Homo sapiens: one gene and its partner. The protein of the gene in region 2 interacts with the protein of the main gene of each other region in a pairwise test. Each region holds a gene or a part of one and is shown on either strand. Other genes may lie near its edges.

Evidence for each region.
Region 1: the proteins of DCAF17 (region 2) and PTCHD1 interact in a two-hybrid assay, tested with the Homo sapiens proteins (one study listed by BioGRID and IntAct).

Annotation. Positions count from the first base shown.
Region 1 is NC_000023.11:23,379,706-23,387,109, reverse strand, and holds part of PTCHD1 (patched domain-containing protein 1), read right to left. Parts: coding exon 6,859-7,404; intron 1-6,858. UniProt on the Homo sapiens protein: Required for the development and function of the thalamic reticular nucleus (TRN), a part of the thalamus that is critical for thalamocortical transmission, generation of sleep rhythms, sensorimotor processing and attention. Can bind cholesterol in vitro.
Region 2 is NC_000002.12:171,429,398-171,437,264, reverse strand, and holds the start of DCAF17 (DDB1- and CUL4-associated factor 17), read right to left. Parts: upstream 3,040-7,867; 5' UTR 2,688-3,039; coding exon 2,562-2,687; exon of another isoform or gene 2,493-2,561; intron 2,490-2,492; exon of another isoform or gene 2,268-2,489; intron 2,183-2,267; coding exon 2,079-2,182; intron 1-2,078. Other genes in the region: METTL8 (tRNA N(3)-cytidine methyltransferase METTL8, mitochondrial isoform 2 precursor), read left to right, coding at 2,584-2,591. UniProt on the Homo sapiens protein: May function as a substrate receptor for CUL4-DDB1 E3 ubiquitin-protein ligase complex.

The DNA of each region.
Region 1 (7,404 bases), on a different chromosome or scaffold from region 2:
GAATAATCGTAGGCAAATTGATCTACTTTGTATAATACTTCTGGATTTTGTAAGTCAGATTTTTCTTCAGTCCCAGATTTTCGCGCCTGTCCCAGTATACATAGCCACAACACAGCAGCTGAGAGATGCCGCTGGGTGCTACTCACATTTTAAACCTCTCCACACTAGCAGGATTTCCTCATCCTGAGTTCCTCAAAGTAAGGAATGGCTAAGAAGGAGGAAATGGGATGGCTTGCTGATTGATGGATGATCTTTCAGTTTCAGTGTGAAAACATTTAATATCATGAGTCAATGAAGCTGTTTATAGCATGCCTGGGCAGTGCCAAATTTCATATATGGAAATAAAATTACTACATTCGTCTCAAAAATTCAGAGACTATAATCCATAAGCAAAATCTGCTTAAAGCCTATTTTATTCTTAGAAAAGCTTCACTAAGTAGCTCATGTTTATAAGATGCCTGTTTTTCAATGTCATCCACATAAATTCATGATTTTTGTGTTTTTGAGAAGAAATTTAAAGTGTATATATGTCTGGGTTGAGTAACATCTATTTTCAGGGAGAAGTTTATTAATTGGGTTACATTTACACTTTGCCAGTTATAAACATTTACTTTACAAGCTGAATTGTTTGGTTTATTGCAGCCTGTTTTGTCTCAGAGTTAAGAGTAAGAATAAAGGTGTACTCTGTTTAAGTAAAGACAGATGCTCACATCAGGGGGAACACACACATCTTATTCTTTGTACTAGAGACTTGTCACATTTTGAAAATTCTAACCAGAGCATTGGGTTTTAGTCTTAGGAATGATTTTTCTTCACTAGATAGCTGTAAAAGAGAGCCCTAGAAATGAATTTGCTTATAGCTCTTCCTTGTTTAAAGTATTTAGATATTGTGTGTATGTACATTATATAAGACCAGTGTGTATAAGTATAAATGTGGCCCATAATATATGCTATGGTCATTGCTTAATTTCTTTTCGTATAGAATACAAATGTGATATATAAACATATGTATATATGGCATATCCTATTCAAATATATTTTATATATTTACATACAAAATGTTGGACTCCTATATACCAGATAGTATACACAGAGAATAGCTTCTATTTAAATATTCAAGCAATATATATTACATAATATATGTTATAAACACATTGTATACATATAAATACATAACATGAGCTTACTACATATCATATTGCATATGATATATAATACAGCTAATGTGATATATAATATATATTATGCACATAGGCTATAAAGACACACATACACACAAGATGAATAGTAGGCTGATGTGAAATTTATTTTACTGATGAGGCAAAATAATGTTAGTGTTGCTACACCAATCAGTGTAGAGAAGGGGCTATAGAATCCCTCTGTTGGGCTCCATCTGTCTATATTTTGGTTCTTGAGTAATAAAGTAGCCTTGGTGAAATGCAGGGTTTCCTTGACAATAACTGTGAACCTGTTTCGGTTGTGAGCTTCTGTATATCCATCTGGTCAAGACTGCCCAGCTGTGACTTTCTGAGAGTTTAGTCCAAATGTAGATACTAGGTATTTCTCCCCAGGGTCTATGTTTAGTTCAGTGTCCTGATGTTGCCTCTTGCTGCCCAACCTTTACAGGGTCTGTCACTCCCTCATTCCCTGGGCACGACCGGGTAGACAGACCACCCAGGGGATATCTGGGAATCCTGGGTCAAAGACAAAGCCCCTTTGTATTCCTCTGACTGAGTTCTGCTTTCCTGGACTTGTGCCCCCAAGTCCTGTTCCTGTCTTACTTTATGGTTAAAAATAGAACAATAAAACTTGTTTTGTTCCATTCCCCTAAACCTATTTATTTCCACCTACTCTCACCCTAATATGATTGGTGGAGCATAAGAATAAAAGGGCAAGAACGAATTACAAGCCTAAATTACATAATCTCCTTGTAAATTAGTCCCATAATGACCATGGACCATTACAAAAAACGATATTCGAGAGACAAACTTTGGAAATACTGTAAAATAAATGATCTCTTTTAAAAAAATAGATGTACACAAAAATGTGAACAACAAAACCCTCATAAATCAGTTGTTTTCTCTAGAACATGCTGAACCTATTACTGATTTATATCTAAGCAAAGTCTTTCCATAGCATTCTAATATACTTCTACTCCATCAGGCAAAATTGTCATATTGTTGCAAATAATGGATTTCTACAATAATGTGTTAGGCTGAACCACACAAAATTACCATTTTTGTAGCTCAAAAATGACCAGATAATGGTACCAAGTTTGTAGGCCAAAAATGGTTGGATATTTGCAATTTCATATGGTTTAAATTTTATTATTATCTGACTGATTTTTCCCTCATTTTCTCATGACTTTTGAAATGTATCAGAATACTCATCAGGAAAGCAAATTCTTTCAGGTTTGCTTAAGTTTAGAGAAAAAATAAGAATTTCAATGTTTCAGTTGGAACTAAATGTTTTGCATGAGAATTTTTTTTCCTTCCCTTTTTATGAGCTCCATATACTGCATTATATTTCAAGTGGCATCATATGAGAGCAAATTCTTGGAGAATGGAACCCAATCTTCTGGTTTCTGCTACATATGAATAATGTTAAAATGCACAGCTAAAAGAAGCCAAACTTCCCTGCTATTATTCTTTTCCTAGCACTAATCCGCAAATTAGAAATAATCCACTAATTCTTTCTTCCTTTCACGTCCTTGAATCTGAGTGGCCTGGTTGGATAATTCAAAAGGAAGAGAACACCCTGGATCTGACATCTGACCTCAAAATCCCAAACATTTGAAAAAGGGCTTAAAGAGTATTTTTTATCTCATAAATCTCTGGGGCTCTTGTATCTTGATAAATGCAAAGCAACCTTTATAAACTAGATTGCATGTAGAAACTAATATCCGAACTCTTTCACTACGACTTCAATTCTCCTTTTTAGCTGTACAGGATGTACATGAAGCAACAAACCTTCCAGATGCAGAAGGGAGAAAACTTTCTTTTGGTTCCCTTCTACATCATCTAACATTCTATCCCTTTCCTGATTTGTATCTGATCAGCAAAGCTGTTGAAACATTAAGCCTGTAAGGAGAGCTTGCACACAGAAAACCTATGCTAATTTTAAAAATCATACCCAACTGGAGAATAATGGTGTAAATCTTCATCCTTTAAAGGAAATTCCATCACAGATTAAAATAATTAGCATCATATATTCACAAGTAGCAATTCAAGTAACTCACTACTTGATATCAATATATTTGGAAAGGGTTATTATTTTATGCACGATAAGGGTATAGACCAAATAAACTCTTCTCCAAATTAGAGTAACTAAAAAATGTCGATGAACATTTATAACGCTGTAGACCTTTTAGGATTTCAGCTCTAAATAAACTGATATGACTCATCTGGACAGAGGTTTTGGCAGAAGTGGGATTGTCTAGTATGCACAACACTGATTAAAAACATTCTAAATCATGATGTATCTATGCTTACATCATTGCCAAAATGATTCATCTGTGTAGGATATATTCTTATTGCCAGAACTGTCACATATCATCTTGGCTAGAAACACACAGTCACATCCCATTATGGTGAACTCTTAAGAGTTTATCCAAATTCTTTCCTCTTCTGGAATTTTGTCAGGTTAATACTGCTTGACACATGTGATCTTAAAATTTTCCATTCTAAATCTAGTGTCATTTTGGCATTTGGCTGGATTTGGCCTATGTGACCAGAATCACACTGACAATGTTCAGTTTGTTGAATTTTAAATCTATAATGTTTATCACAGTATAGACCTATTGATAGCCAAGGAAATGTCCATGTTTGAGACTTTTTCTAAGATACTTTACCTTTTAAATGAGGCTATATACTTTTTGATTTGATATTGTATTTATATAACATACTAAATCAAGTTTTGCTTAAATCTGCTTAGGTTAAGCATAGCCATTTTAAGTTATACACAGGAAAATTTAAACACTGGACAGTTTACTGTAGTGCCAAAACTCTTAGCACTGCATTTCTTCTTGGTCATTTGAAATATTTACTGGCATTTTAGGACTGGTCATCCAAAAACCCCAGAATTAAACGATGGCCTTGAATGCAACATTTATGAAGCTGTTCTTGCTTATATTTCATTTTATAAACTCTTAAAAATGAAGAGTTTATCTGAGAAATACAGGAGGGCGACCATCCTAAATCCAGGCACTGTTAGCTTTATGAGCATATTAAGCACCCATTACATCGTGCAAAGTGTTTATTGTAAATGGGCCTTAGCTATTAAAACATGTAGCTTCCTTTCATGTTATGACTAAGTAATTTGAGAACTCTTTGGGCTGAGAATGTACAGAAAGGTTGCACACTGATTGTCAGCAGGGAAAACTGCCATCAAATCAATGCACGTAACATTCCTCAGAAATTGCAAACAAGGGCTTATTGGGCACCTGTGGTGCGTGGTCTCTTTCGCTGCAAATGCTAGATTTTTTCTGAATTGAACTGTGATGTAAAGTTCAGTGATACTCAGTCTTTGTGGATCTGTGGCATTACTATTTCTGGATTTGTTTTTTAAAGACATTTCCCTGCTAACAGCATCTTTCCATCCTACCATCTCTTACATCCTTCCCTGCACCAATACTATCTGCCATGGTCTGTTTTGTGTTGACTTTGCCTTACAATATTTAAAACCTCTTTAAAAAGTACAAAAAAGTAAGTTTTAAGAAATTTAAAATATTGCAGTTTACTTTATAAAACTAACTTTAAGAAGTTTTGAATATTACAATTTCATTTTTTAGTGAAACGAAGTTTTGAATACTGCTATTTTAGTTTACTTAAAATTAATTTGAAGAAACTTTAAATATTATAATTTTATTTTACTTAGTAAATTAACTTTTCACAAGTTTTAAATATTCTAACATGCTTTGAGCTCACTGGTAACAACCTGGAATGTCATAAAATCAGCACTGATTGTCCTTTTTCTAGCTCCGGCGTCCTTTTGCCTCACCTTGAGAACCTTACGATCTCCCTTCAGTTCCCCACTCTTTTCTTATTCCTATTTCTCTTCCTCCCACAAAAGCAGCAAGAAAATGAAAAGCTAAAAAATGAAACGAAACGAAAACCCTTCCCGTAACCCCCAAAACATTCAAGATTGTGACTAATCATGAGCAAAACATCTTAATTTCAACCTTGATACAAGCCTCTGTGGAAGCTACTAATACTCAGTCCTACTCACTCTTCAAGGAACCACTCTGTATTCCACAGTCAACCCACACGGTCTTGGGGTGATTTTAAAGCGGCAGGTTATGCTGCTTTCTTAATAGACCGAATTCAGGAGGAGGTACGGCAGCCTTCTTCTCTGTTGTTTTCAGCAGTGACAAGTACATTATCAAATTATCAGGCTGCTCGGTCTCCTTACAGTGCCCAGCTCTTCACAAAAGCTACTAGTATATGTTTATTGACTAGGTTTCAATTCCTCGGGCCACAGAGAATCGAGGGCAGAATGTAATTCTGTGGCTTTGCAGCCCCACCAGCCCCGCTTATCGTGTGCTCACAACACAGCGGAGATTTCCTGAGGAAATTCTCTTCCACTACTCTAAAACAGGGCATAAGGCACGCTAATGACCTCAACAGTGGTTATTTCTTAGTTAACCAAAAAATGCCACTTCATTTGTCATGTGAGTATCTGATTCCAAATGACATTTTAATTTTGTTAAAGGAATTGATGAGAAGCTACCATAGAAAAGGGGGAAAGTGAACCTCTTGAATCCTTGGCCCGCAAGAACCCTGCCATCAGGCTTGCTGGGCATGCCATTTTCGATAACAGATGGACAGGGCAACCGATGTTATGGCCACTATGGCTTTGTTTTGACCATTAATCTCTATCAGGGAGTTCCAGCAGCCCCCTGAGTGGACACACTGGAAGCACGCTGTCACCATCAGCATCGCTTTAAAATATTCTCCTGAGTTCATAGTAAGAATAGGAAAAAAAGTTACTTCCTACTGGTATCTCACATGTCACTTTCAAAGTTCTTATACATTTATCATGTCCTTTTGTGTGATGCTCACATCCACTCTATTCATAAGGTGGGGAAACTGAGAGTAGCAGGCGCTCTCAGTGCCAACCCAACATGCCCTCCCATTCCCCATTCTTGAGCTTGCTGAAGGCTTATAACTACAAAGTCACCTGAAGGATTTCTCTGGCTGCAGGAGTGTGCTGCAGGAGCACCTCCCTGGGAAGTGCTGGCAGTTAACTGGCCTGGGGAGCAGCCCTCAATGAATCACAAAGGGTCTGTGGGAAAATAGCCCAAATTCCTCACCCCGGGGGAGGACCTCTCTGAGGTGTGTTTCACAAGGTCTCCCAAAGGTCCCCTGTGGGGCTGAACCACAGGTGCCCACAGCAACCGGCAGAATGTGATATATCTTGGGCTCATTAACATACCTTCAACTGCCTGCCTTCAACTGAAGTGCCTTCAACTTCCACTTCCTCACTCCCATACTGGTGCTTCCTGGGCTCACCTCCCAAATACACTACTTGTATCCAAATCTTTTTCTCAGGGCCCTGCTTATGGGGAAGCCCAACCTAAGACACTGGGACAAGGAGAAGATTAATACCTGCTAGACACCACATGGCTGCTCAATGGAGAGTCAGCGCTAGAACCCAGGACTTTGAACTTCTGGCACATTTACCAGATTAGGTTGTTTTTTGCTGATTACCAGCACTTTATAGAGTGGGTCCCAGGACTTTTGGGCAAAATGAAGATACTGTTAAATGAAACAAAGTTGTTAGAAGGCTACTCCTGGCCTTTTAGGAACCTAGTCAACACCACCAGCAGGCGGAAACAGAAGAAAGAAGAGTAGTAATTACCTAGCATGACGAAAGGGACTCCCAGGAAGGTGGAATTATATTTCCCACCAGTAAGATTGATGATCCCGGCTGCAGTGAGAGTGGCCAGGCTTATGGTCACCAATCCGAGCAGGCCTAGCCAGGGTTTGCTGCGGACGCAGTCCTGCATAGAGCAACACAGGATGGCCATGGTAACCACCAGAATCAGGCTGGTGACCAGGTAACGTTCTGATACGCGGCTGGTCTTCTGGAAATCTTCCCTCAGTGAGGAGGACGTGTAAGGGTACATTTTGACTTTGCTGTTGGATTTCTGAAACAGTCTGACAGTGTCGCAGAAGCTGGACTCCCACCTCTCAGCCACCATGTCATTGAGACTGTTGATTGACTGCAGGTAGTAGGTGAGCTGGATGGCCTCTGCAGATTTCACCCGGTCTTTGCTGTGCACAGTGACGCCCCCAAGCTGGTGCCCATTGTACACAGCCCTCCCGTCCTTTAAGTGAGTGATTGGGTATGTGATAGCAAAATTGGTCCGATTGGTGGCCCGAGCATTCTTTAGCTCTTCCAGGA
Region 2 (7,867 bases):
TATACTAAAATTAACTCAAAGTGGATCAACCACCTAAATATGAGCTAAAACTATAAACCCTTTAGAAAAAAACCTAGGAGCAAATCTTAATGACCTCAAATTTTGCAATGGATTCTTAGATATGGCACCAAAAGCATGAGTAATGAAAAAAATTTAGATAAATTGGACTTCATCAAAATTAACCTCTCTGTGGCTGGACGCGGTGGCTCATGCCTGTAATCCCAGCACTTTGGGAGGCCGAGGTGGCCGGATCACCTGAAGCTGGGCGTTCGAGACCAGCCTGACCAACATGGAGAAACCCGGTCTCTACCAAAAATACAAAATTAGCCAGGCGTGGTGGCGCATGCCTGTAGTCCCAGCTACTCGGGAGGCTGAGGCAGGAGAATCACCTGAACCCGGAAGGTGGAGACTGCAGTGAGCCGAGATCACGCCATTGCACTCCAGCCTGGGCAACAAGAGCAAAACTCTGTCTCAAAAAAAAAAAAAAAAATTAACCTCTCTGTTTCAAACAATAACATCAGGAAAGTAAAAAGACAATCTACACAATGGGAGAAAGTATTTGAAATCATATATCTGATAAGGGACTTGTATCTAAAATATGTAAGGATTTTTGTAAAAAAAAAAAAAAAAATTTACAAGTGGGCAAAATATCTAACCAAACATTTCTCCAAAGAATAACATACAAATGGCTAATATGCACAAGAAAAGATGCCTGACATCACTAGTCATCAGGAAAATGGAATCAAAACCACAGTGAGATGCTGTGAGTCACACATCAAGTGTTGACAAGAATGTGGAAAAATCAGAACCCTCATATACTGCTTATGGGAACATAAAATGGTACTACCACTTTAGAAAAGTGTATGGCAGTTCTTCTAACTATTAAACGCAGTTACAGTATAATCTTATGACCTACCAATTCCATTCCTAGGTATAATCTAGGAGAAGTGAAAATAAATGCCCACATAAAAACTTACATGGAAATGTTTATAGCAGCATTATTTATAATAGCTAAAAGGTAGAAACACCAATGTCTAACAACTGATAAACGGATACGTAAAATGTGGTAATTGATACAATGCAATATTATTCAACTTTATAAAGGAATTCTGATGCATGTGACAACATGGATGAACCTTGAAAACACGCAAAGTGAAAAAGCCAGTTACAAAAGACCATATATTATATGATTCCATTTATATGAAAAGTACAGAATAGGTGAATCTACAGACAGAAAACAGACTAGTGGTTGCTTAGGGCTGAGGGTAATGGTGGTACTGAGGTGACTGCTTAAAGGTACATGGTTCTGTTTTGAAGTGATGAAAATGCTCTAAAATTAACTGTGGTAGTGATTACATGTATCTGTGAATGCATTAAATATTATTGAACTGTACACTTTAAATGGGTAAATATATGGTATGTGAATTATATCCTAATAAAGCCTATAAAAAAAGCTCATTTTTTTAAAAATGCAAACTGATGTATGTTTAGAATATGCTTTAAAAGAGGTCATGCAAAAGGAAAAGTGGGTTAGATAAAGCAAATGTGGCAAATCTTGATAGTTTTTGAATCTGGGTAATGAGTATATGGGGATGCATTGTGGCTTTCCTTCCCCCCTCATGTTGGACAGTTGTGGATGAGGCTGACTGTTAAACATTTTGGATCTCTAAATACTAGGCTTTTGTTTGAAAAAATTTCTCTAAAAAAAAAAAAAAAAGGCAAGTACTTCCAAAACACAATCCATCAATTCTCCAAAGCAGCATCTAATTATTTGATTGGCAACTGGATTTCTTGACTGTGGTATAAGTAGACTAAACACTAAACAGTACTCTGAACAATCTGTGGTTTTGCCTGCACTGTAGTTTTGCTTTAAGTTGGTATTTACAAAAATGACACCTGCAACTTTAGATTTAACAAGATTTTAAAATTACATGCATTTTTTACTGCCTAGTCTTATTTCGGACCCATTTTTTTCATTCTATTTCACTAGGCACTAATGTAGGCATGTGGTTCTATACAAATTATAGTTAAGATCAACAGTGAGGTGAATTACAGCAAAATTATCAATAAAAAGTTACCTGCTGACACAGCGCCGATAATTGTCAAAATATATTCTTCCTCTCTCATAGGCTATAGGTGACCTGGAATGAGTTGTCCAGACATTCTTAAATTTAGTACTTTCCTAAAAGACATAAAGAATTTCCGTTCAGGAAAGAACTCTTAGGCTTTAAGTTAGATTTTAAATTTTCAAAGCAACATAATGTCACCTATATTATTTTAAAACTTTTTGCATCCTTCCTCCACTCTGCCCTCATGTTTTGGCTTAATGAGGTGACCAACTTTTAGAATAATTGTTTCCAGGTAAGACATAAGAAGCGTAAAACTAAAAGCAGCTGGTGGCCCTATTACCACCTATCCCAGATTCCGGGCTTGTATCCTCCTCCCCATCACATGTGACCCTATAAAGGGAGGCCCCAGCGCGTTAAAACCGCATCCCCGCAGGAGGCTCGGCCGCCGCGCGCCCGCGGCCCTCCGTCCCGCCCCGGCCGGCTGGCGGTCACCTGGCACACCAGCGCCCGCAGGATGCCCAGGTTGGTCCTCTGCACCACGCCTGCGTCGCGCGAGAAGCAGCCCAGCGCCCGGCGACTCAGCCGGCTGCACACGTTGGGCTTCCGGGTCGGGCCCATGGAGGCGCGGGCCGGGCCCTGGGTAGGCTGGGCCGCCGAGTGGCGCGCCCCACACTCCCGTGCTGGGCAGCCGCCGCTGCCTTCGAATTTCGAGGCCCAGACTTTCCCGGCGGGGCCCAGGGAAAGCTGACACGGGGAGGCGGGCAGGGAGCACCCGACGGCGGGGCGAGGGAAAGCAGAGCCGCTTGCACCGCCAGAGCGCGGAGAGAAGGGAAGAAGCACTCCCTTTTCGATCTGCCCCAGGCTCTCTGGCCGCTGACAGTGCGACGCTCCGGTACCGCGCGGCCGGCCGGAGCCGCTCTCTCACCGGGAAATGTAGTTCCTAGTGCCTCGTGAGGCAGCCCGGCTTCTCCCAGGAACTACAATTCCCGTCAGGCGGCGGGGAGCGAGGGCTTGCCCGGCCCTGCCTCTGCCTGCCGCGGCCCCGCCTCCTCCGGCCCGCGGAGGCTGCGCTGTCTTGCGGGCGCGCTTCTCTGTGCTGCGAGTGGCTAGCTGGGCAGAGCCCTGGGGGCGCGGTGCTGCCGCCTCCAGGTCTCCGCCCCGTGTGTGCGCCCTGCACTTAGGGATCCCTCCCTCACTGCCCCGGTACTCACAAGCTTCTCGGCCCCGACCTTCGCCCTGGGAGGTTCTGGCCAGGTGCCGGGAGGGGCGCTGTGTCGAGGGCGATCCCCCCAAAGCAGCGTCCCGTGCTAAAGGTACGCCCCGCGGCTTTCCCTTCAGCCGCATGTTGGCTGAGGGGGACGGTAAACTGTGCTTTTGTATTAGGAAGATGCTGGCTTCCCATTCACTCTTAGTTTCACCCTCCAAACTGGGATTGAGTTACTCTTTCCCGGAGGCTTGTCCTTGGGTGGCCTGCGGGGACACTGACTGGTTTTGCGATAATTGCTTCATTTCATTTCCTCTCGCCTCCATTCTTTTTTCTTTATAGGGAATAAAATATGAAATGCTTACATTCTTATTGGACGGCCTAAGATATTCCTCGTCGATGTCTCTAAGTAAAAGATATACTTTGTTAACTAGCCCTGCCTGTATGTTCAAAGTTCCCAGCACACTAAACTTTCAGCAAGCTTGCACCACATGTGTCCCACCGCCATGCTCTAAGTCCCTTAAGGGTGGGGCCGCTGTATCTCCCACGTGGACTTGGGCATGCTACCTCTTGTTCATAGGTGCTCAAAGAAAGCCAGCGATCGCACCTGACTGGCAGAGCAAAAAGTACAGTACAGCAGGTCCTTGAATCGCATTTTTTCGTTCAGTGTCATTTTGTATAACTTGATGAGAAAAAATAATAATTTCCTACCGGGGCTACTGTTTGTGTGGATCTTGCCCCTTCTCCCCACGTCTGCATGGGTTTTCACCAGGTACCCCAGGGTACTGCCTCCCACATCTCAGTGCAGGCTGGATGAATTGGCCTTGTCTGTGTTTCCTGTCTGAGTGTGAGTGTGAGTGCTCCCTGCGATGGAATGTCGTCGTGTCCAAGGGTTGGTTCCCACCTTGCACCCTGAGCTGAGGGGATAGGCTTCAGCCACCCTCGACCCTGAACTGGAATAATTAGGTAAATAACTATCTTACTTGTTTTTATTAATCTTCCTTAAATGTATGTATAGCTCCCATTTATTTCAATGTTTAATATTAGAAGTGTTTTGGTTTGTATTTAGGAGTTTGGTGATGTTTTTGTGACCAGAAATATGTTATAGGAACTTAACTTTTGTTTATATCAATTGGCCTATGGTAAAAATGGTTTTGTTATATGTCATTTTGCTTACAGTCAGTTTCCAAAAATCTGTTGATGACATTAAGTGAGTACTTACAGTACTGGGTGAGTGTGTTGGGTCACAGTTTAAGTGTTTAGTAAACATTGGCCATATCTCTTTTTAACCCTGCTGAATTTCCTTCAGGGCTCGAGCTTTTGCTGATTTTTCATGACTTATTTACAGCATACGGTAGAGTGCTTTGTATATTTTTAGAGAGTGCTACAATAGTTAATTTGGTAATTCATGAATGCAGCTGTCACTGAGAAAACTGGAACCCAGAAAAGATAACTGGGTTTTCTTTGGCTTAAATGAAATTCAAATCATTTCTGAATTGAATTCATCAACTCTCTCATTTCTCTTTCCTCTTTGCCCCCACTTGTTTGTCTTCTTTCTTGTGGCCTTTATTTCACCACCAAGTCGTCACCAAGGGAGAGTCATCCTGGATGCCTTGCTGTTCCTCACCCACAACCAAGTCCTTTAGACTCTTATCCATCTCATCTTCATTTCACCTAAGTAATTTAGGGCCTCACCATTTTTTATCACATTATTAAGTAGTCTCTTAATTTCTGCCTTACTTGTGACACAGGATTTTTTTTTTTTGACGTTGCTTTGCCACTGGAGACCTCCGCAGCTGGAGACCTACCCAGGCCTTGCTCGGGCTGGGCTTGCCACAGGAGGTGCCCTGCACAACTGGCCCACTGGGCCACTCCTGGCTTGCACGCAGGTGTGGATCCTGTGGCCACCTGACTGTGGGCTCAGCCCCTGGCAGGAGAGGGTGTCTGAGCTGGTGAGTGCAGAGTTGTGTGGTATCCAGCTGGTTGCTCCAAGTGCCGGCACAGGAGCTGGCTCCGTGCACCGCTTGCGGCTGGACCAGGCATGTCACAAGTGACTCCCACAGTGGGCTCTGGAGTCCAGACTAGGGGAAGGTGGTGGTAACCAAATGGGTCAGGCAACCCAGAAGCCCCAGAGGTGGGTGTTACAGCATGCTAACAGCTCTTTTAGATCTGCCCTCTGCAGCCTGACGAACAGGGGCATGTTAACAGCCCTATCAGTCCTGTTACCCCACTCCCGCCCATGGCCCTGGGGCTGGCCTGGCCCCCCGCCCTGCTTCTTGTTGCATAGGGTGGCTACCAGGCGCTGCTGGTGGGGCAGAGAGCTACCGTGTTACTCTCTTCTTCCTACCCATGTTTGGTGGCATCCTGAGCTCTTGTCCTGTGTCCAAGAATGAGATTACACTAACAATCGGAGGGTGAGGAGGACAGAGAAGAGTTTTATTGAGCAACAAAACAGCTCTTGATGCAGGATTTTTGCTCTTAGCTCAGCTAGGTCTGAGTTTTTGTCTCACAATCAGTAAGAATTAGGTGTGTGGACCCCGGAGAGTGAGTGGAGTAGAATTTATTTAGTGAAAGGAAAGCTCCCAGTAAAGAAAGGGGTCCTGAAAGCAGGTTGCTGGTTGCCCCCTTTACAGTTGAATACCTGGGCTTAAGGTGCAAATTTCTGGAGGCTCCACCCCATCCTTCCAGTGTGCTCGTGGGCCCTTAGTCTGAGCTACTCCATATTGGTTATTTCCCTTACTGCACATGTGTTAGGGAATGGAATTTTCTATTGTGGGCATGTTTAGGCAAGCCCCCTGTGCAAATTCCCTTATGTGCACAAAACATCTGGTGTAAGCACTTTTGGGGCACGTCGTAGGTTCTTCAGGGACGCTTCCCTTACTGTCTGCCTAAAGCAAGCTGGCTAACTCCTTTCATTCTCAGCCAAGAGGGGACGCAAGGGTGGTCCCCCACCCAAAGTAGTTTGGCCTCTCTTCTGGCATGGCTGGGTCTGGGGCTTTTATGGGCTCAGAATGGGGAAGTGCATGCTGATTGGTTTGTGAGTATGCAAAATAGGCTAAAACAAAGGCACCACTCAAAGGTGGGCACAACAGTGTGAAAAAACAAATTAGAGAAGGGTGGGTATATGTAAAATAGGTGAAGGGTGGGGATCAATCAGAGGAAAGTGCACCAAATGGGAAGAGAGGTTCTCGATCTGGTCCATAGATTTATCCAGGACATGTAGCTAGGCTTTAAGCTGTCTTCAGCTTGAAGGTCAGGTTTCACTGGGGACCCACCCCCATCTGCCTAGGATTTGTCTGCCTCCTGCTGCTATCACTTGGGTACTTTTAATTCCAGCCCTCCTCCATACTGCTGCCAGAGTGATTTTCCTAAAGCACAAGCTGTCACTTGCCTGTTGCATTCTTTCAGCAGCTCCGAACACCCATAGCAGAATTTCTTATTTATTTATTTATTTTTATTATACTGTAAGTTCTGGGGTACATGTGTAGAACGTGCAGTTTTGTTATATAGGTATACATGTGCCATCGTGATTTGCTGCACCCATCAACCCGTCACCTACATTAAGTATTTCTCCTAATGCTATCCCTCCCCTAGCCCCTAGACAGGCTCCCTTTTTTTTTTGTTTTTTGTTTTTGAGATGGAGTCTTGCTCTGTTGTCCAGGCTGGAGTGCGGTGGGGCTATCTCGGCTCACTGCAGCCTCCACCTCCCAGGTTCAAGTGATTCTCCTGCCTCAGCCTCCCCAGTTGCTGGCATTACAGGCGCACACCACCATCCCTGGCTAATTTTAATATTTTTAGTAGAGACGGGGTTTCACCATGTTGGCCAGGCTGGTTGTGAACTCCTGACCTCAGATGATCCGCCCACTTTGGCCTCCCAAAGTGCTGGGATTATAGGCATGAGCTACCGTTCCTGGCCCATAGCAGAATTCCTTTTTTTTTTTTCTTTTTGAGACGGAGTTTTTTTGCTCTTGTTGCCCAGGCTGGAGTGCAATGGTGTGATCTCGGCTCACTGCAACCTCTGCTTCCCGGGTTCAAGTGATTCTCCTGTCTTAGCCTCCCGAGTAGCTGGGATTACAGGCACATGCCACCACACCCAGCTAATTTTTGTATTTTTAGTAGAGATGGGGTTTCATCATATTGGTCAGGCTGGTCTCAAACTCCTGACCTCAGGTGATCTGCCTGCGTCTGCCTCCCAAACTGCTGGGATTACAGGCGTGAGCCACCACGCCTGGCTGAGCAGTATTTCTTATACCCAAATAAGATACTCAGGATCCTCCATTGTTAACTTAAAACCTTTTTAGTATGTCACATATATGCAAAGATAAAATTAGGTATAAACTCCTCATCTTGTCTCTTTCTTGTTTTTTGTCTTTTTAATTTTTTTATGTGTGTGTTGTATCTTTTATACACCGATAACACCCGAACATTTACAAGTTAAATGAAACAAAGCTATAAAACCAATAAATTCAAATGATTGTGAGCAATGAGACTTTAGTTGGACCTAAAAAGCTCTAATCATGAATGTCCTCTGTGGCGTACCTTCCTTACAGAAAGGTCTGTCCATATTGCCCTTGTGTTGAGAGATTACTTGATG